Regions from separate parts of the Homo sapiens genome. Here all the other regions are reported to be linked to region 5. The links are microRNA targets in miRTarBase. Many come from high-throughput screens and were not tested one by one. Region 5 holds a microRNA gene; each other region holds the end of a gene's coding sequence. Distances are between the middles of the regions.
The links. Region 5 holds the annotated microRNA hsa-miR-6736-3p (UCAGCUCCUCUCUACCCACAG, at 2,555-2,575, opposite strand). A microRNA usually pairs through its seed, bases 2 to 8, with sites in the 3' UTR of a target mRNA and lowers its output. Matches are read on the target gene's strand: a 7mer-m8 pairs with bases 2 to 8, a 7mer-A1 pairs with bases 2 to 7 and ends in A, and an 8mer does both.

Region 1 (5,074 bases), not on the chromosome of region 5:
AATACCCCAGGGACTGCTCTTTTTTATGGCTAGAGTGGTCAGTGCATGGGGTGGGAGCCCTGGGCTGGAAGTCTGAATGCCTAAATCGGTTTCTTGCTTTTCCACTGCCTTAACTTGGGGTCTCCAGCACGTTTTTTTTATTTCTCTGAGCTTCCTGTCAAGTGAATTGCTGATGATTGGTTCTATAAATGTTTATAAGACAGTATTAGGTCCTCACATACCATCAACTACATACCCCATTTCATCTGGTTTCCACCCACAGCCCCTTGGGTAAAAGTCAGCTCTTTGCATAGGCATCTCCCCAAACTTGACAGCCTTGCATGAATGAGAAGCTTCGGGGCCCAGCCTGTTTGGGGGGGTGGAGGAGGAAGGCTTTCATGTGCAAGAGTCTTCTAACTCCACCTGGTAATGTTCTGTTATGTTTCCACAGTTATCTCTAAAGACTCTTCGGTGAGAAGACAGATGAAGCGAAGGTCCTGGGGTTCCAGGTTGCAGAACAACATGTCAGACCCCACCCACCCCATGCTCAAGCTGTAATTCAGTTGGCATACAGGCTTGGAATTGAGAATTTATTTATTGTAAATATGTGATTTGCACGGGCTTTAAAGCAGTATTTTAATTGACTTTTATTTCGGTAATATTTTTTAAAACACCCCTCATTTTTCCATTTTTTGCATTGCATCTTGGCATTTGTCAGCACAGATAGAGCCCTGTCCCTCCACCTAGTGCCCACTCCATGACTGTGAATCTGCTTGCAGGCTGGCCCTTCCTAGATTCTGAACCGTTTGTAGAGAGTCCTTAGTTTGCAGGTAGCCCCAAAGTTATAAATATCCACAACGGCTTCTTATTGGCATAATTTCATATTCTCATCACACTAACTGCAAAATCAAACCAAATAATGCCTTATCAATGATGCAGCTCAGAGGAAGTAGCGTGTCCCCCACACCCAGACAGTGCCGCGCAGCCTCCAGGGAACGAGGTGCCATGTCTCGCTTCCATTTTGCAGTACAGGGAATTTTTTTTTTTTTTTTTTTTTTTTTTTTTGCTGCCTAATGTAATACATCACAAAGTAAAGGCAAGAGTGGGCTTGGCCCTCCGATGCCAACCACAGGGCCCCTTTTGTAACTGAATAATCCTCCAAGTAGCCAGTGCTCCTACTGTTTACAGTGTCCCTCGTGCCCAAGTCTCTGTCACTTTCATCCTGTTCCCTCCAAGTTCCCAGTCCCATCCCAGTAGCCAGCTTTATGAGATTTTGGTATTTCTTCCCTACAGATTAAAAACATACACAACTCATCATTATGCTAAACTACCAGTTGTATCTCAGAGGTCTCCCCTTCTGCCCTTGCTTCGAGTGTGGACTTCCATGGAAAATATGACATGAAAAAGTGTAGAACGAAACATCGTGTGAAATACCTGCCACAAATACCTAGTGCCTCACTGCCCCCATCTTAGGATCCTTGGAGCCACCCGTCAGGCAAAACCTAGCTCCCTTCTGAGCTAAAGGAGAACCTTGCCTGACAACTCCACATTCATTCCCTTGTGGTGGGCACCTGTCTGTGGGGAGATGTGTGCAAGCTCAGCCACTCTGAATATGGAAAAGGTCAGGCCGGGCTGGTCCTGCTCTTCACTCCCTCTTCTTGATCCTGTAGGGAGTGGAAATGTGTTTTTGCTTGCTGCCTGACCCCTGATGTTCCCCATCTTTGGTCGGGGAAGACTGTGACAGAGGAAGGAGAAAAAATAGAAGGAAACAGACTGATCCCTGGGCTGTGCTCAAAATAGCTGCCCTTTAAAGGAAATCAGGCAGGGAGGGGAGGGAAACCAGCGAAAAAGAAATTTGCTTTGCAACAACCCACGCACACATTCACCCCTGAAGTATATCATGAACAGACCAAGCCATCCAGAAAGGCAGCCGGTCAGGAGGGTGTGGGCAAACATGACTGCATCTGCCTCACTGTTGTCTGGAGTAACGACTCAGGTGGTGTCCTGCAGCAGTGCTGTGCTTTCTCATTCCAGATGGAAGCAAGTGAGCCAGGGTCAAATTCCCTTCTCCAGGGGAATGAATCAAGCCCAAACTGTAACAGCTAAATAAGTAGAAGTTTTTGCAGGTCATCAGCTCTGGGCATAACTAATTTGTTTTATTGGTTCTGGAAGATTTCCAAAAAGCCAGAATTTATTATTATAACAGTGTCCACTCCACTGCCCTCACAGTTGTGTAAAATAATTATAGAAGTTTTAATGATCCTGATTAAGAAGACCCTAGACAAAGGCAATTCCACCTTCAGAGTAGACTGCCTGCCCTAATGAGGTGTTTAGACATTCGTGTCTCCTATGGCTGGGATGGAAATTAAAATAACACTATTTAAGGACAGAGCGGGCCAGGAGCAGTGGCTCATGCAGGTAATCCCAGCATGGGAGGCTGAGGTGGGTGGATTACTTGAGGTTAGGAGTTCAAGACCAGCCTGGCCAACATGGTGAAACCCTGTCTACTCAAATACAAAAAATTAGCCAGGCATGGTGGCTCACACCTGTAATCCCAGCAACTTGGGAGGTTCAGGCACAAGAATTGCTTGAACCCTGGAGGTGGAGGTTGCAGTGAGCTGAGATGGCACCACTGCACTCTAGCCTGGGCAACAGAGCGAGACCCTAACTCAAAAAAAAAAAAGGACAGAGGGGAGGAAGGAGCAGAAACCAAAAATGGCAATTAGGGAGAAATCTCAGGAATGTGGCATCCCATCTCCCCTTGAGACCTATCACTGAATTCACAACCCTTCGAGCTCATGCTGGTGCACTGAGTCCCTTGGGCGCTGTAAAGGTTTAACCCCTTGACTGTAAACTCAGACTTAGAGACATCTGAGTCACACAGTCCCCGCCATTGTCACATATTCTCACTGACACTGCAGTCTGTGACTCCTCCAATGTTTCACGTGTATTTTATATTTATTGATGTCTCCTTCCGCAGATTCATTTCTTTGTACTTAATAAACTTTAGTAAGTGGAAATGCTTCCAGTCGTTTCCTTGTTAAAACCCATCGGTGGTCACCAGTATCAATCTAAACCAAACATTTTTAAGGATCAGGAGAAGTTGAAGTTCTAAGAATGATAGAAAAAAAATAGATATTTACATGGATACGGTGCTTGCTGTAACATACTGTGTTAGAAACAGGGCCTTTCTTTCTTGAGCTAACTAGCCTAATTGGTATTTGGAAAAAACAAGCAAGAAAAAAAAAATTTCTCAGGTGCATTTTTTAAAAAGTAGATAACACTATATTTATTCAGTTTGATTAACACAGAATGGGCAGTGTATTGCTTATAAATTCTGCTAAATTGTGTTGAAATAGAACAACCTTCCCTCTACGTGCACTTAGTCCCCACTCCCAACTCAGCAAACCCCCCAAAAAAGCCTCCTGTAGGAACAGAATCATCTTGAATCCCCCTGTAGTATTTTAAGGTGGACCTTTGGGAACAGGGTTCAGGGGAGGTGAGATTTATCTGCTAGGCAAGCTATCTCAGAGCTAGTGCTTAGAAGGCAAACCAGGATCTGAATCTCCATTTTGCCTCTTACAAGTTGCCTCTTACAATCTGTGCCTCAGCTTCCTCATTTGTCAAAAGGGGACATAAATATGTACCCGAGTGTATATTGGTGAAGATTCAATGATGTAATACACATGGGCAAGCCCTCAACCCTTGGATCACAACGGAGCCAGTGATGCACACCCTGCACCCCGGGGAGCAGCCAGTTTGCTGGTTCCATGCTTGGGCACAAACAGGGCTCTGCTGGCTGCATCCCAGGCACTTCATTCAGTATTTGCTGAGCTACTCAGACCACACTTCACTAACTCTGCTGCTGGATAACAATGAGAGAGCAGTCATTAAAATTCATAGATGTTCCTGAAATAAATCTCATCTAGAAACTAATTTCAAAGCTGGTTACTACACACTTTGCATCAGAATTAGTTAAGGGGCCGTTTTATTGCTCTCTTATTGGTGGAGGTACAGATTGGCTCTTTGATGGCCAAAAGGGCCAGTCTGAATGGGGAAGAAAAAGTAAGGGCCGAAGATAATCTACAAAGTGGATGATGAACTTCAGAGTCACATTGAGCATGGCCGTGGTGAAGTAGCTAGAAGTGTAAGCACCTTTTATGGAGCTAAGTGTGAGAGACGTGCTTCCTAGAGAGGGAGCAAGTTAATGGGAAGGGCCATGGACTCCAGAAGCAAGTTCCAAATTCTCAGACGGTGCCCCGGGAGGCTTCAGCATCCTCCACCCACCCATTCTGTTATGGGTCGAATTGTGTCCCCACAAAAATCCATAGGTTGAAGAAGTCCTAACCCCCAGTACCTCAGAATGTGACCTTATTTAGAAATAGGCCCATTGCAGATATCGTTAGTTAAGATGAGGTCATACTGGATTAGGGTGGGCCCCTGATGCGATATGACTGGTGTCCTTATAAAATGAAGAAATTGGACACAGACATAGACACAGGGAGAACGCCACATGAAGATGAAGGCAGAGATAATCAGGATGCTGCTTCTATGGGTCCCAAAGTGCTGAAGATTGCCAGCAAGCCACCAGAAGGTGGGCAAGAGACATGAAACACATTCTTTCTCACAGCCCTCAGAAGGAACCAACCCTGCAGATGTCTTATTCCTGGGACGTCTGGGCTCCAGAACTGTGAACCAGGAAATTTCTCCTGGTTACGCTGCCCAGTTTGTGGTACTTTGTGACGGCAGCCCCAGCAAAAGAATACAGGCTTTGTCACCCAGAGCTTTGCAGGAGGGTACAATGTTTATGAAAAGAGAGCTGGGAATAAAATTTCAGAATTAGCAGCTCCTTATCATGTAAACAGAGCAGTCATCTACCCTGACCTTGAAATAGGTCATTCATTGCAGGTGACTAAGTCCTATCTTCACGAGCAAGACATTCAGTTGCGTTTTACCTGTCACAGTGGAGAGTCATGGAAAGCAAGCTGGCATTTCTGGGTCACAGGAGTGAAGAGAGCTGGCTTTTTCCCTAAGTGGCATCCTCTCCTGTTGTGGCATTGCTGATGCCTTGGAATCAAGATGTCTGGCACAGAGT
Region 2 (5,074 bases), 82 Mb from region 5:
GCTGGCAGGAGGTGGGGCAGGCACCTCATCTCATCAGGCCTGTACTGGCAGAGGCAGAGCCATGACCTGACCCTGGTGCTGGGCTGCCGGCTCCCTCCTGCTGGCTCGCAGATGGCATCACCCAGGTGGTAACGCAAAGGCTCTTGGGTGTGTGAGAGGGGGAGATGTTGTCTGTGCTAGAGTTTGCAGAGATGGCAGCCTCTGCTGTGATCTTGTGCTTCTCCCCAGATCCTGAGGAGGATGAAGGGGCTGGCCCTGGAGGCCGAGAGTGAGCTGGAGAGACAAGACGAAGCCCTGGATGGCGTTGCAGCAGCTGTGGACAGGGCAACCTTGACCATCGACAAGCACAACAGGCGGATGAAGAGGCTGACCTAGGGGCAGAACGTCCCTGCATTCCTGTCTCACCCTGCACATCCCGCTGAGATGGAGGGCTGGGCGGCAGTGCCAGGGCTGCAGAGGCCTGTGGCCCTCCGGAGTGGTCTTCCTCTGGATGGGGCTGCTACTGTGGGGCTGCTTCTGCACCAGGGGCCTCCCCAGGTGTGCACCATGCCTGCCTCCCACTTGGCTGTCCCTGCTGCTGGGCAGGACCCGGCCACATGTTCTGCGGATGCTGCAGAAGTGTGGACCATGGCGGGACCCCAAGGACACTTGGCACAGGCCTGGAAGAGGCCGCCCTCGTCTTGTCTCGGCTCCCTTTCATGGACAGACTGGCCTTCTTAGCTGTACTATAAATTTGTGAGTGAAGTTAGAGCCCAGCTCACTTAGCCAGCTCACTTTGAGGGCATCCTATAAACACCCAACTGTTCTTTTATCGTCTCGGTTTTAGCCAAAAGTGAAATTAGCATGACTGCATCTTTCAAACAAAAATATTGATTTCTGCTTTTAGGGCCCCGTTTCCATCCAGAAATAAAGGGAAATGCTGGCTTCAGAGTGGTTTTTGAAGATGGGTGCCAGTGTTTCCACCTGGTGCCTTGTGTCTGGGTCAGTGGCCACTCCCTCAGAGGCCCTGGGGTAGGTGAGCATGGCCTCTGGCGGGACTGCGCGTCACATTGCGGGTGGTGCCCCTTTGCCATGCTGCTTTCAGATGCCCCGTGCAGGGCTGCAAGGAAGGGTGCGGGCACATGGGAGGCGAGTCCCAGGATGGTGCCACGGCCCAGCCTGTGGGGCCTCCACGCTGGTGCACCCAATGCCCAGTGGTGCTGCCTTCCCAGGGCTGCTCAGTGAGCCTCACACACAGGGGCCCTCGCAGCTTTGCAGCCAGAAGCCCCACGTTGAGATATCCTGGGCGTGCTCCCTCCAAAGGTTCTGGGGAGGACCCTGCACGGCCGCCTGCCACAGGTCCAGGGCCCAACCTAATCCAGGATGGCCTGGTCTTGATGTCACTCACTGAGAATGTCTGCTAAGACCCCAGTTCCACAGGAGGTCCTGCTCTGAGGCTCCAGCTGGACTAGGGGCTGCAATGCCAGTCGCCAGAGCCAGTGCAGGTGCCTGGCAGGAAAACTGGGAAGCAGCCTCTCTAGAAAGCCACAGCCCAGGGAGCTCTGATTTTTTTTTTTTTTTTTTTTTTTTGAGAGGGAGTTTCACTCTTGTTGCCCAGGCTGGAGTGCAATGGCATGATCTCAGCTCACCACAACCTCCGCCTCCCAGGTTCAAGCGATTCTCCTGCCTCAGCCTCCCGAGTAGCTGGGATTACAGGCATGCGCCACCACACCTGGCTAACTTTGTATTTTTAGTAGAGATGGGGTTTCTCCATGTTGGTCAGCCTGGTCTCAACCTCTCGACCTCAAGTGATCCGCCCGCCTCAGCCTCCCACAGTGCTGAGATTACAGGCGTGAGCCACTGCACCCAGCACTCTGATGTTATTTTTTGTTTGATCTGGGAAATTGTTTTCTGCTTTTTCTTATTTGGTTTATACTTAGCAGCCTGCAGAAGGAGACCTTGCCCTGTCCCCTCTGGGGTCCTTCCACTAAGGCCACAGGTGAGTGAGTGCTCCCAGCCTGTCTGGACACCCCAAGGAGGCCAGTGTTGGCCCTCAAGCCTAGCCCAAGGCATGCGGACACCATGGCCCCCCCTCCTGTCAGTGCTGGGAGCCGGCAGCAAGGGCTCACCATGCCTGCAGCCACCGTGCAGACCCCCATCAAGCCTGGAAGAGGCTGCACCCTGTCCTCAGGACCTCACAGTGTGAGTGGGGTCTCCTCTGTCCCTGACCCCTCGCTGTTCTCAGGACTTCACAGTGTGGGTGGGGTCTCCCCTGTCCCTGACCTCTCACTGTCAGCAAGTCCTTGCAATATCAGGTGAGGCCTTTTGTGTCACTTGACCATTCCTTGTCCACTGGACCTCAAAACTAACATGATATACAGTAGTAAGAATGTAGAAACTTTCCCACTAAAATCACGACCAAGGCCCATACATCCGCTCTCACCATCTCCTTTCAGCACTTTAAGCTCTAACAGATGGAACAAGGCAAGAAAAGGAAGTTAAAGTTTAATGATACTGAAAGAAGAAACAAACTCTCTTTGTTCACAAATGACATTTTCCAGGTAGAAAGTGTAAAAAGGGATCAAGAAAATCCCCTAGAATAATGAACAACTATTCAAGATTTCAAAATATACAAAAGTTAATCACTTTCCTATATACCAACAATGGATGAGTGGATTTGAAGTTAAAAACAAAGTACTTCTACTTTAGCACCCCCAAACAATAAAATACTTAGGTACAAGTCTAAAAAAAGTGTACTCTTTCTATATATATGAGAAAAACTACAAAACCCTGATGAACAAAAGAAGAACCAAATAAATGGAGAAAAATTCCATGTTTATGGATAAGAAGACTCAGTATTTTCAACATGTTTGTTCCTTCCAGCTTGATCTATAGATTCAATGCAATTTCAATCAAAATCCCTGCAAGTTATTTTGTGGATATTAACAGATGATCCTAAAGTTTTTATGGAGAGGCAAAAGACCCAGAATAATCAATTCAATACTGAAGGAGAGGAGCAGAGTTGGAGGACTGACGCTACCTGACTAGAAGACTTACTACAAAGCTGCAGTTACCAAACCAGTGTGTTATTGGTAAAAGGAGAGACAAATAATAGAACAGATTAGGGGACCCAGAAATAGACCCATATAAATATAGTCAACTCATCTTCTGAGAAGATTCAAAGGCACCACAATGCAGAAAATGGTCCCACAATGGTGCTGGGACAACTAGATGTCCGCATGTGCAAAAGAAATCAAACAGACCCTACACCCTAAACAGAAATTAATGAAAAGGAGCTGGGCGCGGTGGCTCATGCCTGTAATCCCAGCACTTTGGGAAGCCAAGGCAGGTGGATCACTTGAGGTCAGGAGTTCGAGACCAGCCTGGCCAACATGGTGAAACCCTGTCTCTACTAAAAATACAAAATTAGCTGGGCATGATGGCGAGCACCTGTGATCCCAGCTACTCGGGAGGCTGAGGCAGGAGAATTGCTTGAACCTGGGAGGCGGAGGTGAGACAAGATCACGCCACTGCACTCCAGCCTGGGTGACAGGGTGAGATTCTGTCTCAAAAAAAAAAAAAAAATTATTCAAAGGGATCATAGACCTAAAAGTAAAATGCAAACTAGAAATGTCCTGGAATATATCATAGGAGAAAATGTAGGTTACCTTAGGTACGATGATAGCTTATAAATTTTTTTCACTCATTTAATTGTTAATATCTGTGGGTACATAATAGGTATTTATGGGGCACATGAGATGTTTTGATACAGACATGCAATGTCTGTATTTTTAGTAGAGACAGGGTTTCTATGCTTTTTTACAAACAATCCAATTATACTCTTTTAGTAATTTTTAATGTACAATTTATTGACTATAGTCACCCTGTTGTACTGTCAAATCAAAGGGCATATTTCATCTTTCTAACTGTATTTTTGTACCCATTAACCATCCTTGCCTCCTCCCCAAACCTCCACTTACCCTTCCCAGCCTCTGGTAACGATCCTTCTACTCTGTATCTCCATGAATTTGATTGTTTTAATTTTCCACAAAGAAGTGAGAACATGTGAAGTTTCTCTTTCTGTATTTGGTTTATTTCACTTTATAACATAATGATCTCCAGTTCCATCTATATTGTTGCAAATGAGAGGATCTCATTCTTTTTATGGCCAAATAGTGCTCCATTGTGTGAATGTGTATATACTTTCTTATCCATTGGTCTGTTGATGGACCCTTGGGTTGCTTCCAAATCTTGGCTATTGTGAACACTGCTGCAACAAACATGGGAGTGCAGATACCTCTTTGATATACTGACTTCCTTTCTTTTGGGTATATACCCAGCAGTGGGACTGTTGGATAATATGGTAGCTCTCTTTTTAGTTTTTTGAGGAACCTCCAAACTGTTTTCCCTAGTGGTTAATTGGTGGCTAATTTACATTCCCTTGGTAATGGCTTTTTAGATATAGCATAATAACAAAGCCATGATCCATGAAACAATAAATTGACAAGCTGGACTTTATTAAAATTTAAAACTTAATGCTCTGCAAATGACACTGTCAAGAGAATGAAATGACAAGCCACAGACTGGGAGAAAATATTTGCAAAAGATGTCTGACACAGGACTTCATCCAAAATAGAAAAAGAACTCTTGAAGCCAGGCATGGCTCCCAACAACTCAGGGGGCTGAGACGGGGGAGGATCCTTTGAGGCCATAAGTTTGAGACCAGCCTGGGCAACCAAGCCAGACCCCCATCTCTAATAACAATGCTAAAATCTAAAAAAAAACTTTTCTGAACTCTTAAAACTCAGCAAAAATTAAAACCCAAGTAAAAGTGGTACCCAAAGACCATAACAAACACCTCACCAAAAGATATACAGATGGCAAATAAGCATCTGAAGAGATGTTTCACATCGCATGCCATTAGGGAACTGCAAATTAAAACAAGGAGGTACAACTACACACCTGCTAGAATGGGCAGAATCCAAAACACTAACACCACCAGTTGCTGGGGAGGACATGGAGCAACAGGAACTCGCATCCATTGCTGGTGGAAATGCAAAATGGTGCAGCCACTTTGGAAGACAGGGTTTCACCA
Region 3 (5,074 bases), not on the chromosome of region 5:
CGAAGAGTGAAAAAACAAAGCTTCCACAGTATGGAAGGGGACCCGAGCGGGTTGCTGCTGCTGGCTCTGTTGGCCTGCTTTTATTCCCTTATCTGGCCCCACCAACATCCTGCTGATTGGTCCATTTTACAGAGAGCTGATTGGTCCATTTTACAGAGCACTGATTCGTCCGTTTTGACAGAGCGCTGATTTGTGTGTTTACAAACCTTTAGCTAGACACAGAGTGCTGATTGGTGCGTTTAGAATCCTTTAGCTAGACACAAGTTCTCCAAGTCTGCTACCCGGCTAGCTAGACACAGAGCGCTGATTGGTGTATTTATAAACCATTAGCTAGACACAGAGCACTGATTGGTGCGTTTACAAACCTTTAAGTAGACACAGAGTGCTGATTGGTGCATTTACAAACCTTTAGCTAGACAGAAAAGTTCTCCAGGTCCCCACCCGACTCAGAAGCCCAGCCAGCTTCACCTCTCAATGGCACTGGCTGCGGGACTTTGTGGCACCTAGCCTGGGCACTCCAGCAGCCCAGAGGGAGCTTGTCCCCTGATTAAGCCCAGCAGGCACCAGCCAGTGGCACCGAGTGCTGGGCCTGCTGAGCCCGTACACACCCGGAACCTGTGCTGGCCCGCGTGCGCTGCGCGCAGCCCGGCTCCTGCCCGTGCCTCTCCCTCCACACTTCCCCGCGAGCAGAGAGCCAGTCCGGCCTCGGCCAGCCACAGAGAGGGGTCCCCACAGCACAGCGGCGGGCTGAAGTGCTCCTTGAGTGCGGTCAGAGCGGACACCGAGGCCGAGGAGGCGCTGAGAGCGAGCGAGGGCTGCTAGCACATTGTCACCTCTCAATAAGCCACTCAGTCTATGGTAATTTGTTTTTGCAGCTCGAAGTAAAACAAGTTGTTTCAGTATTAATTCTTTTTTAATTGTCATAGGAAACCCAAATCTAAACAGAAAGTTACAGCTTAGGCTGGGTGCGGTGGCTTATGCCTGTAATCCTAGCATTTTGGGAGGCCAAGGTGGGCAGATCACCTGAGGTCAGGAGTTTGAGACCAGCCTGGCCAACAGAGTGAAACCCCATCTCTACTAAAAATACAAAAATTAGCCAGGCATGGTGGCAGATGCCTATAATCCCAGCTACTCAGGAGGCTGAGGCAGGAGAATCACTTGAACCCTGGAGGCAGAGGTTGCAGTGAGCCGAGATCACGCCATTGTACTCCAGCCTGAGCGTCAAGAGCAAAACTCCATCTCAAGAAGAAAGAAAAAGTTGCAGTTTAATTCTTTTCTGGATGCTCAGATAGCAGGACAATTAGTACTGTTGGGGTTTGTTGAATGGTCTTTATGGAAAGGGGTGAAGCTTCATGGTGAGGGACTGAAGTATGCTACATATCTCAATTTAAATGCTGAAGGAACATTTTTCTATAGAAACATTGTTCAATTGCATTTATAGAAGGCATTTGAGGGCCTACTGTGTACCAAGTGGAAATATAAAGATAAATGAGAATCACGCTTTTGCTCTTAAAACACAGAATAGTACACAATATAGATAGAAACAGATAATGGCAGGAAATTGTGGTAAGAAATATGTCAAACTAAGTACTGAAGAATTAGAGACGAATAGATCTGTTAGCCTGTGGGTGAGTTAGGGAAGGTTTCATGTTGAGGTGAGCTGTGTTTGTAGTCTGAAGCATTTTACCAGGCTGAGGGGAACAGCATGTGCAAAAGCATGAAGGTGTGAGTAAGGTTTGTGTGGGGGTGGAGCAAGTTCAGTATGACCCGAGGATAGTTTGCAAAAGAGGCCTTTGATTGTATAGTGTAGCACTCAGTAAATAGTGTTGGCGCCTGAAATCAATGACTGTACATCCCAAACTAATCTCAAAGCTATTTCCTTTTGGTGTGGGTTTGGTTTTGTTGTTAATTTTGAAATATACTTTTGAACACTGAAATCTCTGAAACTGCTAAGATCTCTAGAAGTGTAATTGGGAAAGAAACTTGCTTGTAGCTTTAACAAAATAAGAAACTCTTCCCAAATAAAACTTATTTTGAAGTTTGAAAATATATACTTTTGGTGAGATAGATGAATAAATGAATGAATACTGTGTATACACCAGATATTCTTATATAAGACCTAGAGGAATGGAACTCTTTGCGAAAGTATATTCCGTATTTCAGCTTCAAAATCAATCTTTGAAACACGGTCCTTGCTTACATGGGAAAGGCATATTGTGAGTCAAATACTAGTTTATCTGAGGGATTTTGTCTCCTGGTTAGACAATGAACAGTGTATTTTCAGTCCTGGAATTCAGTACCAAAATGTAATGACTCCCAGAAATGAAAAGCAAATGATCGAATTCAACACTTCTGTTCATTTCGATGGTATTAGTGCTTGCCCTTTTTTGCAGTCTGGCTTAGAAGCTCATTACTTTACCTGAGCTAGTGGTCTCAGAGTGGGGAAGTACACACTGCAGAGTACACAAGACAGTTTATTTTGGAATATGGCAGGAAAGTATTAGCATTTTTTATTTATATTGCTGCTTATGCCATTGTTTAATTTGTTTTTGTGTATAAGGTACAAAGGTACATTTTCATGCATATACCGTATACAAAACACATGTGGCCCCACACATATACACATGTGCACTCACGTGTACACACAGATACACACAAAAAAATGAGGTTCCATGCTGCCTCCTTTCCCCTGCCCATTTTTCTGGGCACATAGGATCAGGAAAGTTTGATATCACTGATTTAAACCATCAATGCAAAAACACTTTCAAAGGAATCTTAAAATATTTAACAATTCTAAGTTTTATAAAGAATACACCTTAGGCAATACCAGTTTAAAAGAAACACTTTATTTTATTTATTTATTTATTTATTTATTTATTTTTGAGACAGTCTTGCTCTGTCACCTAGGCTGGGGTGCAGTGGCGTGATCTCAGCTCACTGCAACCTCCGCATCCTGGGTTCAAGTGATCTCCTGCCTCAGCCTCCCAAATAGCTGGGATTACAGGTGTGTGCCACCAAACCCCGCTAAATTTTTTTGTATTTTTAGTAGAGACGGGTTTCATCATGTTGTTCAGGCTGGTCTCGAACTCCTGATCTCATGATTCACCTGCCTCAGCCTCCCAAAGTGTTGGGATTACAGGCGTGAGCCACCACACCCGGCCTAAAAGAGACACTTTAATGAAATAAACATAGTAGGTTGTAAGGTTGTAATTTGTGTCTAATAATGAATGCATACTTATGGGCACTTTAGATTTTTTTATACCAAAGTAGCTTTCAAAGGACAATTTATATCATGTTTTCTTAGTGAAGTGGTAATGAATTCCATAAATATCCTTGTACCATGCCTCCTATCTGACATTTCCCTCCTAAATTGGTTAAAAATCAGTATTATAGACTGTGCGCGGTGGCTCACGCCTGTAATCCCAGCACTTTGGGAGGCCATTTCAGGCAGATCATCTGAGGTCTTGAGTTTGAGACCAGCCTGGCCAACATGGTGAAACCCCGTCTCTACTAAAAATACAAAAAAAAAAAAAAAAAAAAATTAGCCGGGCGTGGTGGTGCGTACCTGTAATCCCAGCTACTTGGGAAACTGAGGCAGAAGAATGGCATGAACCCGGGAGGTGGAGGTTGTAGTGAGCCGAGATTGCACCACTGCACTCCACCCTGGGCAACAGAACGAGACTCTGTCTCAAAAAAAAAAAAAAAAGAAAAGAAAAAAAATCAGTATTACAAACGTGCTTGTAAAGTAGATGTGTTGCCCACATCTTCCCTGGTGCTGTTATTTGGCACAACACTGACATCTAGAGTCCGTTGTGGCTTATTTGTTCTGAAGTTACCTCTGTTTAACCTTCAGCTTTGGATTTTCTGTATTTTGGCTTTTATGGTCTTACTCTAGCCACTATATTATTCTCATTTTGCTGATAGCATGATGTAAGTTACTTTGCATACCCTGGCAGGCAAATGTGCGTTACCCCACTGCCCCATTACAACATCAGAGGAAATAACTTTACTAAGGTGCTTTTCAAAATGAATGTCTCTAACTCAAATTTTGTCACGTTGTCCCTCCCAACTTATTTTAATTGTGCCATGATTTCCACAAACCATAAAGGTGATTCTTCCACTCAAGACTGAGGCACATGGTTTGGCTTCAGATCTTCAGGATGGCAGTCATCACACATCTCATGTTGAATGAAACAGACTCAGGATACAAGTTTAAAATAGAATTTTTTTTCTTGGCAAATTTGGAAGGTATTTTTCAGTTGCATTTTGTTGGGTTTTAGTATTTTGGTAATGACTATTAGTTATAGTTTCCTTACATTCTGACATCCTTCTTTGTAGCCAGTTGTCTTTTCAGTTTACCTTTATTTTTTTTTAAGACCTGATGATATATGTTCATTAACACTGCCATAGCTCCTGGAGTTGGATTTTCAGTGACTTCATTGAAAATTAAAACGTTTCTATGGCCTTTCATAGTTGGAAAGTACTCTTCTGTTTTCATAAGTGTTGTTATCTTTCTCCTGCAATAATAAATAAATAGAAAGCCATGTTTAAGGTTATGTAACCAATGAAGCCAACTGCCAAGGAACATGCAAACCACTGGGCCATCTTGGATTCTGGGTCCTAAGTGTCCATATGGTAATCTTAAAGGCCAGATTACCGTTTTCCCCATCCGTATTTAGAGTAGGATGTGGGAACTGAAAAATACTTTTTTTTTTTGTTTGGATGCTACTGTCAAAATCGTGGCTGGGAGCTTTACAATTCTCACTTCTAAGACTGCTTTCAGGCCACATACCTCGGCCTTGTTGTTGAAAACATGTCCCAGCCTCAGAAAGAAAAATGATTTGTAATTACTCAGCATGGCATCTTAGTAATTAGACCACCTATCTTTATGTATTCATATATACACTGTAGGATGAAACGACTACTTAGACAATATTCTTTCCTTGGCAAAAATCCTTTGTGAAAGTTAGATTTTTAGCGCTTGCTTTGGCAGCACATACACTAAAATTGGAACAATATAGAGAAGATTAGCATGGCCCCTGGGCAAGGATGACACACAAGTTCGTGAAGCGTT
Region 4 (5,074 bases), not on the chromosome of region 5:
TCTGTCTCCACTCTTAAGGAGACAGCTCTTTGTATAGTGGTTAAGCATAGACTGTGGAGCCTGCAGATGTGGTTCCATCCTTATATCTGTCGCTGTCAAACGGTGTGATCTTGGGCAAGTTGCTTAACCTCTCCTAAGTCTCCATTTCCCTATCTATAAGATGTGGCAAATAGTAATACCTTGTCCATGGACTGTTCCAAGGGTGAAAAGCGTGATACATAGAAAGCAGTTGGGCCAGTGCCCAGCCCAGTAAGTGCTCAATAAACATTAGCTGCTTTTGCTACCATCATCATCATTGGTAGTGGTAAAAATTAACTTGCAACCAAGTATTAATTATCATTTACCCATTTAAATAAAAGGAAATGCAGAGGCATAGGGAAAGCAAAATAACACCCAAAATATATTGATGACATCTGATACCTTTGCTTCTACATTAACAGATTTATCTTTCTAATTGTGTTTATCCTTGGTCACTGTTAAAATTTACTGAGTTTTTCTGAGCACACATAGTAGTGAAGCCTGAGATACTAAAAATTACAGCAGCTAGGACTTTACGTAGGTAATTGAGATGGACCGAATTGTGAACACCAGCATTATGAATTCAGAGAGAATCTTTTTCTTCTCCTTTGTTTCTTTTAGAGGATTCTGCAGATTGGGAAAAAGAACTGCAGCAGGAACTTCAAGAATATGAAGTGGTGACAGAATCTGAAAAACGAGATGAAAACTGGGATAAGGAAATAGAGAAAATGCTTCAAGAGGAAAATTAGCTGTTCCTGAAATAGAAGAATAATCCTTAACAGTCTGCAAACTGACATTAAATTCTAGATGTTGACAATTACTGAATCAGAAGGCATGAAAGAGTATAATTTTATGAAATTCAAAATTATTCTTTTTTCAAGTTGAAACTTGCCTCTTCTACTTTAAAAAAGTATATAGAACAGTTACTTCTAATAATCAGAAAGAGATGTTTTATAGAACATTTCTTTAATATAAAGTTAGAGATGTCTTCATAGGCAGTATGGCTATCTTTGCCACAGAAACATAAGTAAAATTTTAGAGTTCTGTTTTCCATGAGGTCAAAAATATAATTTATTCCTCAGTCATGGTTTTCTAAATATCTGTACTCCACATTCCATTTTAATTGATATGAGGGTGTTAAAGTACCTACTTAATGGGTTGATTACTATCAAAATGACCAAATTATACCAAAGAACTTAAGAGGAAGCACTTTCAGAACTATTCACTTGCCAGGTATTTTCTAAAATTCCACCTGAAAGCCAAAAGATAAAATAAATAAGTTGATTTTAATGATATAAGCATCACACAATTTTACATTAAGAAATACTGTGCAGGCCATGCGTGGTGGCTCAGGCCTGTAATCCCAGCACTTTGGGAGGCCGAGGTGGGCAGATCACCGGAGGTCAGGAGTTCGAGACCAGCCTTGCCAACATAGTGAAACCCTGTCTCTACTAAAAATACAAAAATTAGCCGGGCATGGTGGCAGGCACCTGTAATCCCAGCTACTAGGGAGGCTTTTGAACCCAGGAGGCAGAGGTTGCAGCGAGCTGAGATCGCGCCACTGCACTCCAGCCTGGGTGATAGAGTGAGATTCAGTCTCAAAAAAAAAAAAAAAAAAAAGCTGTGCGAAAATATTTGTTTTTCTCTGGGGCCTTTTCTTTCTTTTCTTTTTAAACTATACCAGAAATTTTACATCACAGTTTTTATACAAAGTGGGACCTTCCATACTTTTTGTATTACAATAACCTTCAGAAGCCCATTCCCCTTAAAGTCTGTTGTTCTTGTTTTAATCATCACCACATATAAATGTTTTAGCTTTGTCTTAAACTGTGAGTCTTCATAAAATTGTGTTCCTCCGAGTTCACCTTCTAGGACTTTATTGATTAATCCTTCTCTTTCTGCTATACCAGCAGACACATATTCATAGAATATGATTATTTTTAAAGAACAAGGTGAGGAGGCTGAGGCAGGAGAATTGCTTGAACCTGGGAGATGGAGGTTGCAGTGAGCTGAGATCACGCCACTGCACTCCAGCCTGGGTGACAGAGTGAGAGACTCCGTCTCAAAAATGAATGAATGAATGAATGAATGAATGAACGAACGAACAAGGTGGTTTAATGTCAGAAAACTTCCTAAGCATTTGCTCCCCAAACCTTTCATGTTTTTCAAGAAGCCTTTATTACATAAAGGGGAATAGAATTAAAATGTTTCTTTATAAGAAAAATATACATATTTGTGTTCTTGGCCCCATTAAAACTAGTCAGTAGTCCTTTGGCAAAGATATAGTCAACAAGAGAACTGGGTATGAGTCCAGGCATTACTCCTGTTCATAGTTGTGGATGCATGTGTCTGAGCCAGACTGTCTCAACTGGAGTCTCTTGGGTTATAGCAGTAAACCCGTGTATTCCATGAAACCACTGGGCCCATCATCAAAAGGTTTCCACTTGTGGTGCCACAGTTGCTTATTACTGAGTTTGGGTTCCAAGATGACTGGCAACTTCTGAAATAATCTCATTGAAGGAAAGAGTTTCATTTTTTTTTTAAAAGAGTTTGCTGGAGGAAAAGAAGCATGTTAAATGTTTTTAAGCAGCTAAAAGTCCTAGATGGAAGCATATCAGGATGTGTCGGTGCTTGGCTCTTAGTGAATGCACTAAAATTCTTATTGATAAATGTTGAATAAACACACACAAAAAAGTATCAGAGAAAGAGAAAAACCCTACAATGGCAATAGAGGTGTGTGACAGTTATTGCTATCAATTTTACATAATATCTCATTTAAAAACAACCTAATTATGCATTGCCTGTGAAAATAAAAGGATAAAATAAGATTTTGTACATACTGTAAGAATACAGTTGTGCTGTATTTTTATGGATTCATCAAGGAGTAAAATGTTCTGCTTTAGTAAATTATATAGGTAACTGAAGTGTTATTCCTTTAAAGAGCAAAATAATTTATCACCATGTTTGGTGGAAAATTTCTAAGTATTTATTACATGCCTAGGGGTTAGCCAACAAGATATACCAAGCATGAAAACCTGTAAAACTTAATAAAATGCTAAAATATGAACATCACACTATGGAGATTATGCCTCACTACTCAAAGAGTGTGGCTCAGGAACCAGTGTAGCTTGGCCATGCCCTGGCAGTATGTTGGAAATGCCTGCCCCAGACCAGTTGATGTTACTAAGAACGCCCAGGGGATGAGAATGGACTTTATTTACAGTTTGGGAAGCACTGGTCTAATATGCTCTCAGGGAAGCTGAGGTTTCTACTGCTTTTTACTTTTTACCCTTCCACTAGATGTCCTTTGCAGCAGTGTTTTTCTAGTTGGCATTACAGGTGTCTCCTCTGAGGTTCCAGTTATTTCTATACTACCAAAATTAAAAAGACCCAAGGGCTGGGCATGGTGGTTCACACCTGTAATCCCAGCACTTTGGGAGGCTGAGGCAGGCAGATTGCTTGAGCTCAGGAGTTCAAGACCAGCCTGGGCAACATAGGGAGACCCCTGCCTCTACAAAAATACAAATGAGCCAGGTGTGGTAGCCCACACCTGTGGTCCTAGCTACTTGGAAGGCTGAGGCAGGAGGATCGCTTGAGCCCAGGAGATCCAGGCTGCAGTAAGCCATGATCATGCCACTGCACTTCAGCCTGGGTGACAGAGACTCTGTTTCAAAAAAGGGAGGGGGGGCAAGTTTTTAGGGGGATGAGAAATATTCTTGGTAAATCGGGCATTTCTTTTTTTGTTTGTTTTTTTTTCTTGGAGACAGAATCTTGCTCTGTCACCCAGGCTGGAGTGCAGTGGCTTGATCTCAGCTCACGGCAACCTCCGCCTCCCAAGTTCAAGCGATTCTCCCACCTCAGCCTCCAGAGTAGCTGGGATTACAGGCAACCGCCACCATGCCCAGCTAATTTTTTTGTATTTTTAGCAGAGATGGGGTTTCACCGTGTTGGCCAGGCTGGTCTCAAGCTCCTGATCTCAAATGATCCGCACGCCTTGACCTCCCAAAGTGTTGGGATTACAGGCATGAGCCACAGCCTTAATTGGTAATTTTTGAAAAAAAAACTAGAGAAACATTGTTTCAGAGATAAAGCAGCAATTACACTTGTACTCCCAGTGATTTAAGATGCACTATTGTAATCAAGATGATTTGCTTTAATCAAAATATTGTTAAAAATAGGATTTCAGGACATTTAAAAGGTTTCAGCAGAAATCTTATGATTATGTCTGACTTGCAGTATTTTATTTGCCTCTTTGACGGCTTTTTTTTTTTTTTTTTTTTTGAGACAGAGTCTCACACTGTTGCCTGGGCTGGAATGCAATGGCGCAGTCTCAGCTCACTGCAAACCTCCGGCTCCCGGGTTCAGGCAGTTCTCCTGCCTCAGCCTCCCTAGTAGCTGGGATTATAGGCATGTGCCACCACACCCGGCTAATTTTTGTATTTTTAGTAGAGACAGGGTTTCGCCATGTTGGTCAGGCTGGTCTTGAACTCCCAACCTCAGGTGATCCGCCCGCCTCGGCCTCCCAAAGTGCTGGGATTACAGGCGTGAGCCACTGCGCCCAACCTTAATGGCTTTTTGGTATTAAAAACCAGGACTCTGAATGTGCATCAATAATTCAAATAATTTTATATAGTTACTCTTTCTAGTAATAGATACCCCCCTCCATTTTTAAGTAAAGATAAACATTTTTTAATTAGGAAAATTAGGCACATTTAATTTTAGCAAATTTAGTTTTTCAACTTTTTTTTTTTTCTTTTTTTTTTTTTTTGAGATGGAGGCTCACTCTGTTGCCCTGGCTGGAGTGCAGTGGCCGCAACCTCGGCTCACTGCAACCTCCGCCTCCTGGGTTCAAGTGATTCTCCTGCCTCAGCCTCCCGAGTAGCTGGGATTACAGGCGTGTGCCACCACACCTGGCTAATTTTTGTATTTTTAGTAGAGACGGGGTTTCACCATGTTGGCCAGGCTGGTCTTGAACGACTGGCCTCAGGTGATCCGCCCACCTCGGCCTCTCAAAGTGCTGGGATTACAGGCATGAGCCACCATGCCCAGCCAGTTT
Region 5 (5,074 bases):
AGGATTCGGGGACCTAACATATATGTAAGTTCTTTGTAAGCTACAAGGCACAGCCCCAACAGGAGTTGTCACCATGCAGTGCAGTGGAACTAGAGGAGGATGGAAGAGCCCGACCTCTGGTCCTGCACATGTCCACCCTCCTGCGGATGATCCCAACCATGGCAGAGGACAAAGAGAGAGTCAGCACTGGAACCAAGTTTGCCCTCAAGCTCTGGCTGCAACATCTGGGCAGGTAAAAGTGAAAAAGGACTGGAGAGCTCCACAGTACTGGGCTGGAATGGTCTAGTTTTTACAGGCACGGGGGAAAGCAGGAAAGGACAACCTCTCTTGGAATTCCTCCACAGAACACCCCCACCGTGTAAAAGTGCAGCTTACCTGGACCCAGGGCCAGCAAAGGAAGAATGGAACATGGACCCTCTTCCCCCAAACCAGGGGTCTGGAAAGTGAAGTGTAAAATCCCCTCCCTAGCCCATCTCCATGACACTCACAGAACATTCACAACCTTTATTATGGGTGAGAGCTTCACTACAACTTTAGAAATAAAAAGTAAAATTACAACATAGGTCCTAGGCCTTGGCGAGCCTGAAAAAGAAGATTGGGAAGGAGGGCACAGGGTCCTTCCACCTCCCTGGAAAGGTGCAGAATGAGCCAGGCCTAACTACAGGGCCATGAGCCTCTAGAAGCTTAGGGGGGAATAAGAAACACTGTGAACTTAGATATATAAATAGAGAGAGACCCAAGCAATAGGCCGGGCCTGACTCCCAGACCCCTGCAGATCATGGCTAAGGCCTTACATCCTCCTCTGTCATACTGGAGTAGGAGGCAGGGGAAGTCATCTTTGGAGTATTTTGGTTTTTCTTATTTATGTACAAAAAAGTCCACATCCACAATCCAAAATAAAGTTCTCTGTCCATCTCTGAAACTGCCTGTCTCAGTTTTTCCACCTGTCTGTTTGGCCGAAGGGAATGGAATAGACATGAAGAGACAATGGATGTGAAGAAGAAATAGAGCCATGGGTTTGGGTAATAAGAAGAGAGAGCATTTGGGGTTCAAGAGAGGTGCCCCTTCCCCAAGAGGCTCTAGACATAGTCAAGGCTGAGGGTTCAGCCCTTCTCCTAGCTCACATACCATCCCATTTGCCTCCCACTGCCTAGGTTAACATACCCAAAGGAATGTGCCACCATCTAAAGAACATTTCCAGAAACAGACCCCAGTGTCCTTAAAAAGAGGTTAAATATTAACCCTTTGGGTGCTGGCCTTGTCAGGCAGAGATGAGGCCAAAAGTAGGCATCTGTGAAGGTCTGTCTGGCCCTTGGCCAGAGCCCCCAGAGGGATCAGAGTAGCTGGGGTTGGGACTCCACAGCATACTTGCTCAGTGTTGGGGGACAGCGAAGTTTCCATAATCCAGGGAACTCAGTCCAGGGAAATGATGTCTGACCGACAGCCAGTCAAAGAGGGACCTGAGGGCAGGGGTCCTCCATGCCCCTCCCTCAAGGCCCCCCCAGGGGCCACAATGCTGCTGACACGGCCAGGAGGGGGCGCCGGAGTGGCGCTGCAGTGGGAGCTCCCCAGCGTGGGGGCCAGTGGGCCCAGAAAGTGAGAAGGGGTCCCTCGGTACTGGAAGAAGTGGCCAAGGGCATCCTGTTCATCTAGTGAGGTGATGACAGAGGGGCCATAGTGCTAGGAAGAATCAAGGGCATAGTTTAAGATCTCAATCCCGACTTCCCCACCTCCCAGTCACTCATCTCAGAAATGCCGTATGAGAGCAATCAACCCCTGTGGATCCGAAGGTATTCTCTTGAGAAGCAGGAGAGCCTCTCCCTCTTTCCCCTACTTCCCTACACCCTTCCCCTTTCCCTGCCTTGAGAGAGCTCCTCCAACTTGTTAGGTTCTTGGCTTTGTGGGCGTCTGAAATGTGTGGAATGTCCGGTTAGAGCAGGCATGGTGCTCTAAGTGCACACGGGGGTAGGGGTGAGTAGGCCAGGGCAGAAAAGTAACAGGGGATCTAGGAAGGAGGCCTAAGTAGGAATCTCAGGAACTACCAGTGGGGCTGAGGAGATAATAAGATACCTACACCCCACTGCCCTCACGGGAAAGCAGATTTACATCCCCAGAGATCATAAGAGAGGGAGGGGCCCCATCAGTGTCTAGAAAGGAAGCTTCAGAGATCTGAGACCTTCTGAAGAAAGAACCACTTACCTGACTCTCTGTCTGAAGAAATGAAAATAAATCTAAACCTGGCAGGAAAAGAAAAATCAAAATTAACCTCCTATCTGACCCCTTTACCACCAAAAGACAAAGCACTGTGGACTGTGGCCCCTTGCAGGAGAAGCAGGAGGCTTTGAGAAGGAACAGGGGTTCTGATGTAGCTCTGGGGAGGGTGTGGCAGTGCAGGGTCCATCTTATGACCCATGTCATACCTTGGATGTCGGCTCCCAGTGGGAAGGCAGGTGGGTACTCATGTAGTGGGAGACTGGACAGGAAATCCCCACCCAACGTGCCCATAGCAGGGCTCCTTAGCACCGAGGATGGCTGGTGGCCAGATGTCAGGACTCTGTGGGTAGAGAGGAGCTGAGGCAGCCAGCAAACCACAGATGCCCTCACCCAGCTCAGGTCCCCAGGTTCCCTCTCTGTCCCCTCCACATTTCTCTTGCCCCAGGCTTTGTCCAATGATCAGAAAGCAATCCTGACTTCTTCCCCTGTCCGTTTTGCTGTAGACTCAGCCTATTTTCTCATACCCTTTGCTTCCAGGTAGGGCCGGGATGGCAGCTGAGGTGACAGAACAGTGCTTCTTGGTAGGGGGCAGATCCTCCTCATCTGATGAGCTTTCTATTGTCAAGTCAATAACTTCGACCTTCTTCTTATTCTCTGATGGATCTCCCCCCTGGACTGGGCTGTACTGGAGGCCTGTGGGTATTAAGAAGACTACGTCTCAGAGAAGAGGCCATCCAAGATTTAGCTTAGCTGGGGAACAGGGGGTCACTCACCATCCAGCCCATACCCTGGCGGGGGGCAAACCTCAGATGCCTCCTTCTTGGGTTTCATTGGGCACCAGGATCCATCTTCCATGAATTGGATCTCATCACAATCTGAACAGGAACTAAGAATCTCCATAAATAAACTGGGGGAAGAGAGAGATGAAAATTCACGGGGCTGGGAGATGAGCAGAACAGTAGCCAGAGTTCTGTAACTCACCTTCCTGTATCTCAGTTTCCTCATCTGTAAAATAAGAACATTATCCATCCTACTGGACCGCTCTGAGTTGTTGGAATCAAATAACACAAGGTATGTAAAAGAGCTTTGCAAAGTAAGTAATAGGTTTTAAAATAAATACAATCTGAGGCTGGGTGCAGTGGCTCACGCCTTTAATCCCAGCACTTTGGGAGGTACAGGCAGGTGAATCACTTGAGGCTGGGAGTTCAAGACCAGCCTGGCCAACATGGTGAAACCTCATCTCTACTAAAAATACAAAAATTAGCCAGGTGTGGTGGCACATGCCTATAATCCCAGCTACTTAGGAGGCTGAGGCACGAGAATCGCTTGAACCCAGGAGGCAGAGGTTGCAGTGAGCCTAGACCACACCACTGTTCTCCACCCTGGGAAACAGAGCAAGGCTCTGCCTCAAAAAAAAAAAAAAAAAAAAAGCCGGCGTGGTGGCTCACGCCTATAATCACACTTTCAGAGACTGAGGTGGGTGGATCACCTGAGGTCAGGAGTTCGAGACCAGCCTGGCCAACATGGTGAAACCCCATCTCTACCAAAAATACAAAATTAGCCGGATGTGGCGGCACATGCCTGTAATCCCAGCTACTCAGGAGGCTGAGGCAGGAGAATTGCTTGAACCCAGGAGGCAGAGGTTGCATGAGCTGAGATCACGAGACTGTGCCATACCACTCCAGCCTGGGTGACAGAGTGAAACACCGTCTCAAAAAAAAAAAAAAAAAAAATCTGAGCACTTACGTGTAGTATAAGGAACAAAAGGAGCAGAGACACAGAAGTCCATAAACCATCTCCAAAAGGCACTGGGTCTTTGGCTTTCTAAACACTTGTGTAAAAATAAATAAATAAAGGCACTAGGGGCCAGGCATGGTAGCTCATGCCTGCAATCCTAGCACTTTGGGAGGCCAAGGTGGGAGGATCACTTGAGGCCAGGAGGTCGAGGCTGCAGTGAGCTATGATTGTGCTACTATACTCCAGTCTGGGCAACAGAACGAGACCCTGTCTCAAAAACAAACAAACAAACAAAAAGTGGGGGAGCACTGGGAACAGGAACCATAATGTAGATTCCAAAAAGAGGTTAAGACTAGCAAGATCAAAAGATTAGAACATCCAGGCCCTGAAAAGAACCTTATTGCAATGCTCAGTGGGAAGTCAGGTAGTTGTTATAGGTGATATATTATGACAGTTCAGTACACTGGCTCTGCCACTTAACAATATAACCTTGAGCAAGGCTCAATCTCTCTCGGCCTCAGTTTCCTCATGTGTAATGATACTACCTATCTCATAGGGTTTTTTTTTTTCTTTTTTTTTTTCTGGGTGAGTGTCACTAGCCAATCATAGGATTATTTCTTTTTTTGAGACAGGGTCTCAATCTGTTGCCCAGGCTGGGGTGCAGTAATGCAATCATAGCTCACTGCAGCCTCAAACTCCTGGGTTCAAGCCATCCTCCTGCCTCAGCCTCCTGAGCAGCTAAGACTACAGTCATGAGCTATTATAACATGCCTGGCTAATTTTTTTAATTTTTTATAGAGAGAGGGTCTACTATGTTGCCCAGGCTGGTCTCAAACTCCTAGCCTCAAATGATCTTCCCATCTCAGCCTTCCAGTGTTGGAATTACAGGTAGGAGCCGAGTCCATAGGGTTATTGTGAGGATTCAATGAGATAACTCATGCAAAGTGCTCAGCAAGATGCCTTGTATATACTAAGTCCTTAATGTTGCCCTCCCCCTCCACACACATGCACATACACACACACACACACAGACTGGTAAAAGGGATAGATAAGGTGAGAATTGCAGTTCATGTGAGGGGAAGTAAGCCATATGAATTAAAAACCCTGAAGGAGGTGGTGGCTA
Region 6 (5,074 bases), not on the chromosome of region 5:
TGCATCTAGTTTGAATGGCTGTTCCCCATCTCCTGTTCACACAATGGAGCAAAAACCTCTACAGTCATTGTCTTCAAAAGTGCAGTCATTAACAATTAAATCAAATAGCTCTGGTAGTACTGGTGGAGGGGATATGCAGCCTTCGTTACGTGGTTTACCTAATGGGCCTACTCATGCTTTTAGTTCTCCTTCAGAATCTCCAGATTCTACAGTTGACCGGCAGAAGTCATCACTGTCAAATAATTCCCTGAAAAGCTCAAAAAATTCATCTTTGAGAACTACTTCATCTACAGCAACGGCTCAAACAGTGCCAATTGATAGCTTTCATAACTTGTCATTTACAGAACAAATTCAGCAGCATTCATTGCCACGCAGTAGAAGTCGACAGTCAATTGTTTCCCCATCTTCCACAACACAGTCCTTAGGACAGAGTCATAATTCACCAAGTAGTGAATTTGAGTGGAGTCAAGTAAAGCCCAGTTTGAAGTCAACTAAAGCAAGTAAAGGGGGGAAATCAGAAAATTCTGCCAAGTCTGGATCAGCTGGGAAAAAAGCGAAACAAAGTAATTCTTCACAGCCAAAGGTTTTAGAATATGAAATGACTCAGTTTGATAGAAGAGGACCTATAGCCAAATCCGGGACTGCTGCACCACCTAAACAAATGCCAGCAGAATCTCAATGCAAAATTATGATACCTTCAGCTCAGCAGGAAATTGGTCGATCTCAACAGCAGTTTCTTATTCACCAACAAAGTGGGGAACAGAAGAAGAGAAATGGAATAATGACAAATCCAAATTATCATCTTCAGAGCAACCAGGTTTTTCTTGGTAGGGTTTCAGTCCCACGAACAATGCAAGATAGAGGGCATCAGGAAGTGTTGGAGGGATACCCTTCCTCAGAGACAGAATTAAGCCTTAAACAAGCTCTGAAGCTTCAGATTGAAGGTTCTGACCCTAGCTTCAACTATAAAAAGGAAACACCATTATAAAAGGTAATATTTTGTCAACATAAAGAGTAAAAAACAAAAGTAGAGTTCCCTCTACTTGGAATGCTCTTTTCCTTGATCACAAGGCCAATTCCCTCAGTTAATCTCTACTCAGATGTCATCTGGGCCAGACCTGCCTCATCACCCCTTTACATCAGAATTCTCCTGCCTCTAGCACTCCTTTCCCCCTTGCGTGCATTATGTTATCCAAAGCACTTACTATTTAAAATACTTCAGATGTTTTCTTTATTATTTTTCTCCTCTGAACTAAAAATACAACCTTTGTGAGGGTAGGGTTTTCTATCTGTTCACTACTGTATTTCATGTACTTGGAATAGTGCTTGGACCTATGGTAGTTTCCCAGTAAAAATTTGTTGAATAAGTGAATGAACTAATGAATGAATGAATGAATATACTACTTATGGATCCCAGATTAAGAATTCTTTCCTATTCAGTTATGTCCTCCTTTTAAAAGAATTTTGATGGTGTCAGAGGGAGGGGCTGTTTCAAACTCATCTTTTTGGTTTGAATGCAATAATGTCTGTAGCACATAGTAGATAGTAAATATTAATTTCATTCCTTTTCACTCAGAAAGAAGTCAAAAACTTAGTAGAAGGTAGTTTTTATGATGACAGATCTCTTGAGACTCTTCTAAGTAATGTTTTCACACATAAGGCATAGACGTGAAAAATGATAAATGGATGTTTTTGCAATATTGGTATTTAGGGCACTTTATACCTGGATAAAATAGTCATATTTGTTAAATAAATTTTTTTTTCTCCTTCCTGTAACAAAGGATACTTCATTAATAATATAGGGGATGTTAGTGGGAAAATAGGTATGTAAGTTTTATATTTTAGATACTTTTTCAGAAGCTCATTTCCTGTATTGGAGATAAATCTGAAGATTTTATTAGGGGTCTTTCCTAGCATACACTGCAGCTATATTTATCCCACTTTGCTTAATGATTTTTCTTCCTCTAACAAAGTTATATATACTCTTTCCTTTTTGCTGCTTCTGTCTTTGTAAATATATTTTAGGGATATAATAGGTGAAACACTATTATAGATAAATTCCTCATATATTCTAATAATAAACAGCCTTCAATGTGAATCTAGGGGTGACCAAATGTCATTCAAAAATAATTTGAATAAAGTACTTAATTCAGTCCCCAAATGCAATTCGTTTTTAAAATAATTAGTTCTGATGGTGCACCCTTTCAACTCTCATGATATCTGTTTTAAAGGCAAAATATAAATACGTATTAAAAATGAAACACCAGAATTAAGGTAAACATTTTGTGGAATTTAAAAAGTGGCTTATAAGTTAAATAATAGTTAAGTCTGCTTTGTGCTTTGCATGGTAAATATATAGATAAAGATATATAGAGGTAAATGTATTAAATAAAGTTTTAAAATGATATGTAGCTGTATAATACAATGTAGAAAATAATTTTTTTTTAACTTTTGCATTAGTTTCCTATTCTGTGAAACAGAAGACATTGTGATGGAGTGGTTCTTCAGCTACTGGATGGAAACATATGCCTGTTGATTTGCTGAAAAAACAAAAAAAATGAAGAATGTGATCTCTGCAGTACAGTTACCTTAATTACTGTAATGTGCCTAAATAGTAAGGCTGCCTTCTCAATGTAACCCTCTGTGCTTAAAAAATTTCATTTTGTGTGCTTTGTATTCACTACACAGGAATAAGCACTTTTTAAAAATGCAGATACATACTGCAGTTCCCTGATAAAAGCTGAAAAGAAAATTTGAGTATTTTAAGTTAAGATGTGATAAAAAATGTGCATGTGCCATAATCAAATATATATGAAAAGGCAGTGTTCCTTGTATTTATTTTTTTTTCTTTTTGTGGCAAAAGAAACTTAAACATACTGTTTCAGTCACATTGCATTGTAGTGTATGGCCTGTTTCTTGTATCTTTAAAGACGTTGCTCAATAAAACAAATCTTGCAACTGTTCTATGTTCACTACACCTTCAGCATTGGATAAAAATCATTTTCTATATAAATATCACATTGAAATGAAAAAATGATTTCTTGGCAGTTTAAAAAAAATATTTTATAGTAGTTTAGGGAGCTGCTTTAAGTAGTTTAAATCTGGATTTTCCCAGTAGAATTCTTCTCATCTCTGGCTAAACATGTCAGAACAAACAACCAACCAGTCTGTAGGCAGAACAAAGTCCTATTTCATCCGCTGGGATACAATTTCATCTTCCATTCACTTTGTCATTCCACCTCTAAGAAGACAGACTATCATTCCTGAGGCATGAAAATTCTCAGGGACAAAGCCATGCCTCAGTCACATGTGTGTGCAGAGAGAAATGCACCTGTCTATCTAAGGGTAGATTTTTGATCCCTGAATAATTCATTGACTAAACTGACCTCTTCCTCCTGGCTAAATAAATTAATTTTGCTGGCTTCTCTCTCAGCGGTTTCTATTTTGTAAATTGCTGCATGACCAAAATAGCCCCACTCAAAATCAATTGGATTAATTTTAATGGTTTGGTTGGATGAATATTCTGGATGAATATAAAATGTGCTGCCCTTCACAGATGACACCACTCCCCTGTCAATCATAGCACATGTGTACTTTTTATTGTTACTTAATAGTGATGGATTTGCACTTTTCTATCCTCATACTCTTTCCTGTTTTCTTCTTTGTACAATTGCATGCAGGAGGGCTGGATGCCAGGGTTAAGAGAGAAATTCATGACAAGGAAGGTAAAATTGGTTCAAATGAGCATGTGTCCCACAGCCTTAGTCTCCTTACTCTTAAATCAGTGGAGCTGTAGCTTAGATGGGTCGTTTATATGTCTGGAAAAGTTGTCATAACAGTTTAGAAGCCAAGGTTGTGGATTTGATCTTAGAATGGGCCTGTTAATCTTATAGAACCCAGAAATTCTGTTCTTTTCATGTACTGTTGATGAGGAATGAGGAAAGAGAATTTGGAGATTCAGCACAAAACCATTGCTACTTCTAGAACAAAATCTTTAGAATATGTCCTAATAACAAAGGTCAGTAATGTCATCTTCATATATGAAGGACACATGTGATACATTGTTCGTGGAAATAGAAATGTATAATTATGATAAATGTTTCACTTGAATCTTATTGTAAGGCTTTTCTTGCTTTTATTTTTTAAAGTCAGCAAAACTCATTTTGTCTGTCATCTATAAGTCATAGTGAGGACTACGAGATAAGTTGATAAGTTCAATTGATATTAAGGTGACATGGCAATATTAATAACTCAAATGTGAATGTTTCAAGTATTGAATTCTTGTCCCTATGGGACATTTATTAAATAAAATTAATGGGACTCTTGCAAAGTAGCCTTAAAAGTGTTAATGAGTCTATTAATAAATATGAACACATACTATTATTAGAACCAACTTTACTCATATCTCAAATACAGTACATTTACATTACTGTAGAGGATGAAGCTCTAATTTCTATTACATGTAATTTTCTTTAGAAAGAGAACCCTGAAAGCTGCCAGTTTTTCTATTAACTTTGAATTATTGAAATTGTATTTATTTAATTTTATTGTTTTTACAAAATTGCACCTTGTGTCCAAAGGGCGAAGATATGACATTGCATAAGGGATTTATGTTTTTCAAAGAGCTAACTGTTTTCATATCCATACTATATACACTTGAAGCAATTGGTAGGAAGAGAACCTATTGGAAAAATACGATTTTCAAAAGTAAGTATTCCTCGGGATGTTTTTATATAAATTATGTTTTGGAATAGAACATAAATGACTTTGAGTTAGGATAAGGATGATAGGATGGGTGCTGGAGATGCCCTGCCTTGCTTATTTGTTTCTGTGGGGGATTTAATACTATAAATGAAAATGGCTTCTGCTCCATTAAAAAGTAAAAATTGTCCTCCAAATATAAAACTCCTTAATAGATATTTTTGAAATTAAAATCTTTAAATTTTATAAATCAGCTGTTGCCACTACACAACTATGATGGCATGTGCTTATAACATTTTTATAACATTCCGTCTGTGTCTATTCCCTAAATATCATGAGTTTATAATAAGGAAAGTGATAAAAATACAGTAAT

Region 1: miRTarBase lists WIPF3 as a target of hsa-miR-6736-3p. Seed matches in the 3' UTR shown: 7mer-A1 at 2,595-2,601.
Region 2: the mRNA of SNAP47 is a reported target of hsa-miR-6736-3p. The part of its 3' UTR that is shown has no 7-base or 8-base seed match.
Region 3: miRTarBase lists IGSF6 as a target of hsa-miR-6736-3p. Seed matches in the 3' UTR shown: 7mer-A1 at 2,930-2,936.
Region 4: the mRNA of SYAP1 is a reported target of hsa-miR-6736-3p. Seed matches in the 3' UTR shown: 7mer-A1 at 1,563-1,569 and 7mer-A1 at 2,025-2,031.
Region 6: miRTarBase lists ANKRD50 as a target of hsa-miR-6736-3p. Seed matches in the 3' UTR shown: 7mer-m8 at 3,078-3,084 and 7mer-m8 at 3,787-3,793.

The regions. Positions count from the first base shown.
Region 1 is chr7:29,914,063-29,919,136 of GRCh38, forward strand. It overlaps WIPF3 (WAS/WASL interacting protein family member 3), which reads left to right. Exons shown (of 9, transcript NM_001080529.3): 9 at 431-2,999. The coding sequence ends at 454. Among named protein-coding and RNA genes, the nearest start is that of FKBP14-AS1, 72 kb to the right of the region's middle.
Region 2 is chr1:227,780,299-227,785,372 of GRCh38, forward strand. It overlaps SNAP47 (synaptosome associated protein 47), which reads left to right. Exons shown (of 5, transcript NM_053052.4): 5 at 229-928. The coding sequence ends at 375. Among named protein-coding and RNA genes, the nearest start is that of PRSS38, 33 kb to the right of the region's middle.
Region 3 is chr16:21,637,077-21,642,150 of GRCh38, forward strand. IGSF6 (immunoglobulin superfamily member 6) reads right to left here. Exons shown (of 6, transcript NM_005849.4): 6 at 2,474-4,517. The coding sequence ends at 4,458. All of the region lies in intron 4 of METTL9 (methyltransferase 9, His-X-His N1(pi)-histidine), which reads left to right. It also overlaps the pseudogene RNU6-1005P. Among named protein-coding and RNA genes, the nearest start is that of IGSF6, 13 kb to the right of the region's middle.
Region 4 is chrX:16,759,593-16,764,666 of GRCh38, forward strand. SYAP1 (synapse associated protein 1) reads left to right here. Exons shown (of 9, transcript NM_032796.4): 9 at 640-5,074. The coding sequence ends at 767. Among named protein-coding and RNA genes, the nearest start is that of TXLNG, 24 kb to the right of the region's middle.
Region 5 is chr1:145,848,033-145,853,106 of GRCh38, forward strand. It overlaps MIR6736 (microRNA 6736), which reads right to left and starts at 2,613; the gene lies at 2,555-2,613. NUDT17 (nudix hydrolase 17) reads left to right here. Exons shown (of 8, transcript NM_001012758.3): 7 at 80-232; 8 at 345-922. The coding sequence ends at 447. It overlaps PIAS3 (protein inhibitor of activated STAT 3), which reads right to left. Exons shown (of 14, transcript NM_006099.3): 10 at 2,988-3,121; 11 at 2,739-2,907; 12 at 2,421-2,554; 13 at 2,200-2,237; 14 at 490-1,680. The coding sequence ends at 1,414. RefSeq lists an enhancer at 1,649-2,848.
Region 6 is chr4:124,664,901-124,669,974 of GRCh38, reverse strand. It overlaps ANKRD50 (ankyrin repeat domain containing 50), which reads left to right. Exons shown (of 5, transcript NM_020337.3): 4 at 1-991; 5 at 2,461-5,074. The coding sequence ends at 988. Among named protein-coding and RNA genes, the nearest start is that of ANKRD50, 45 kb to the left of the region's middle.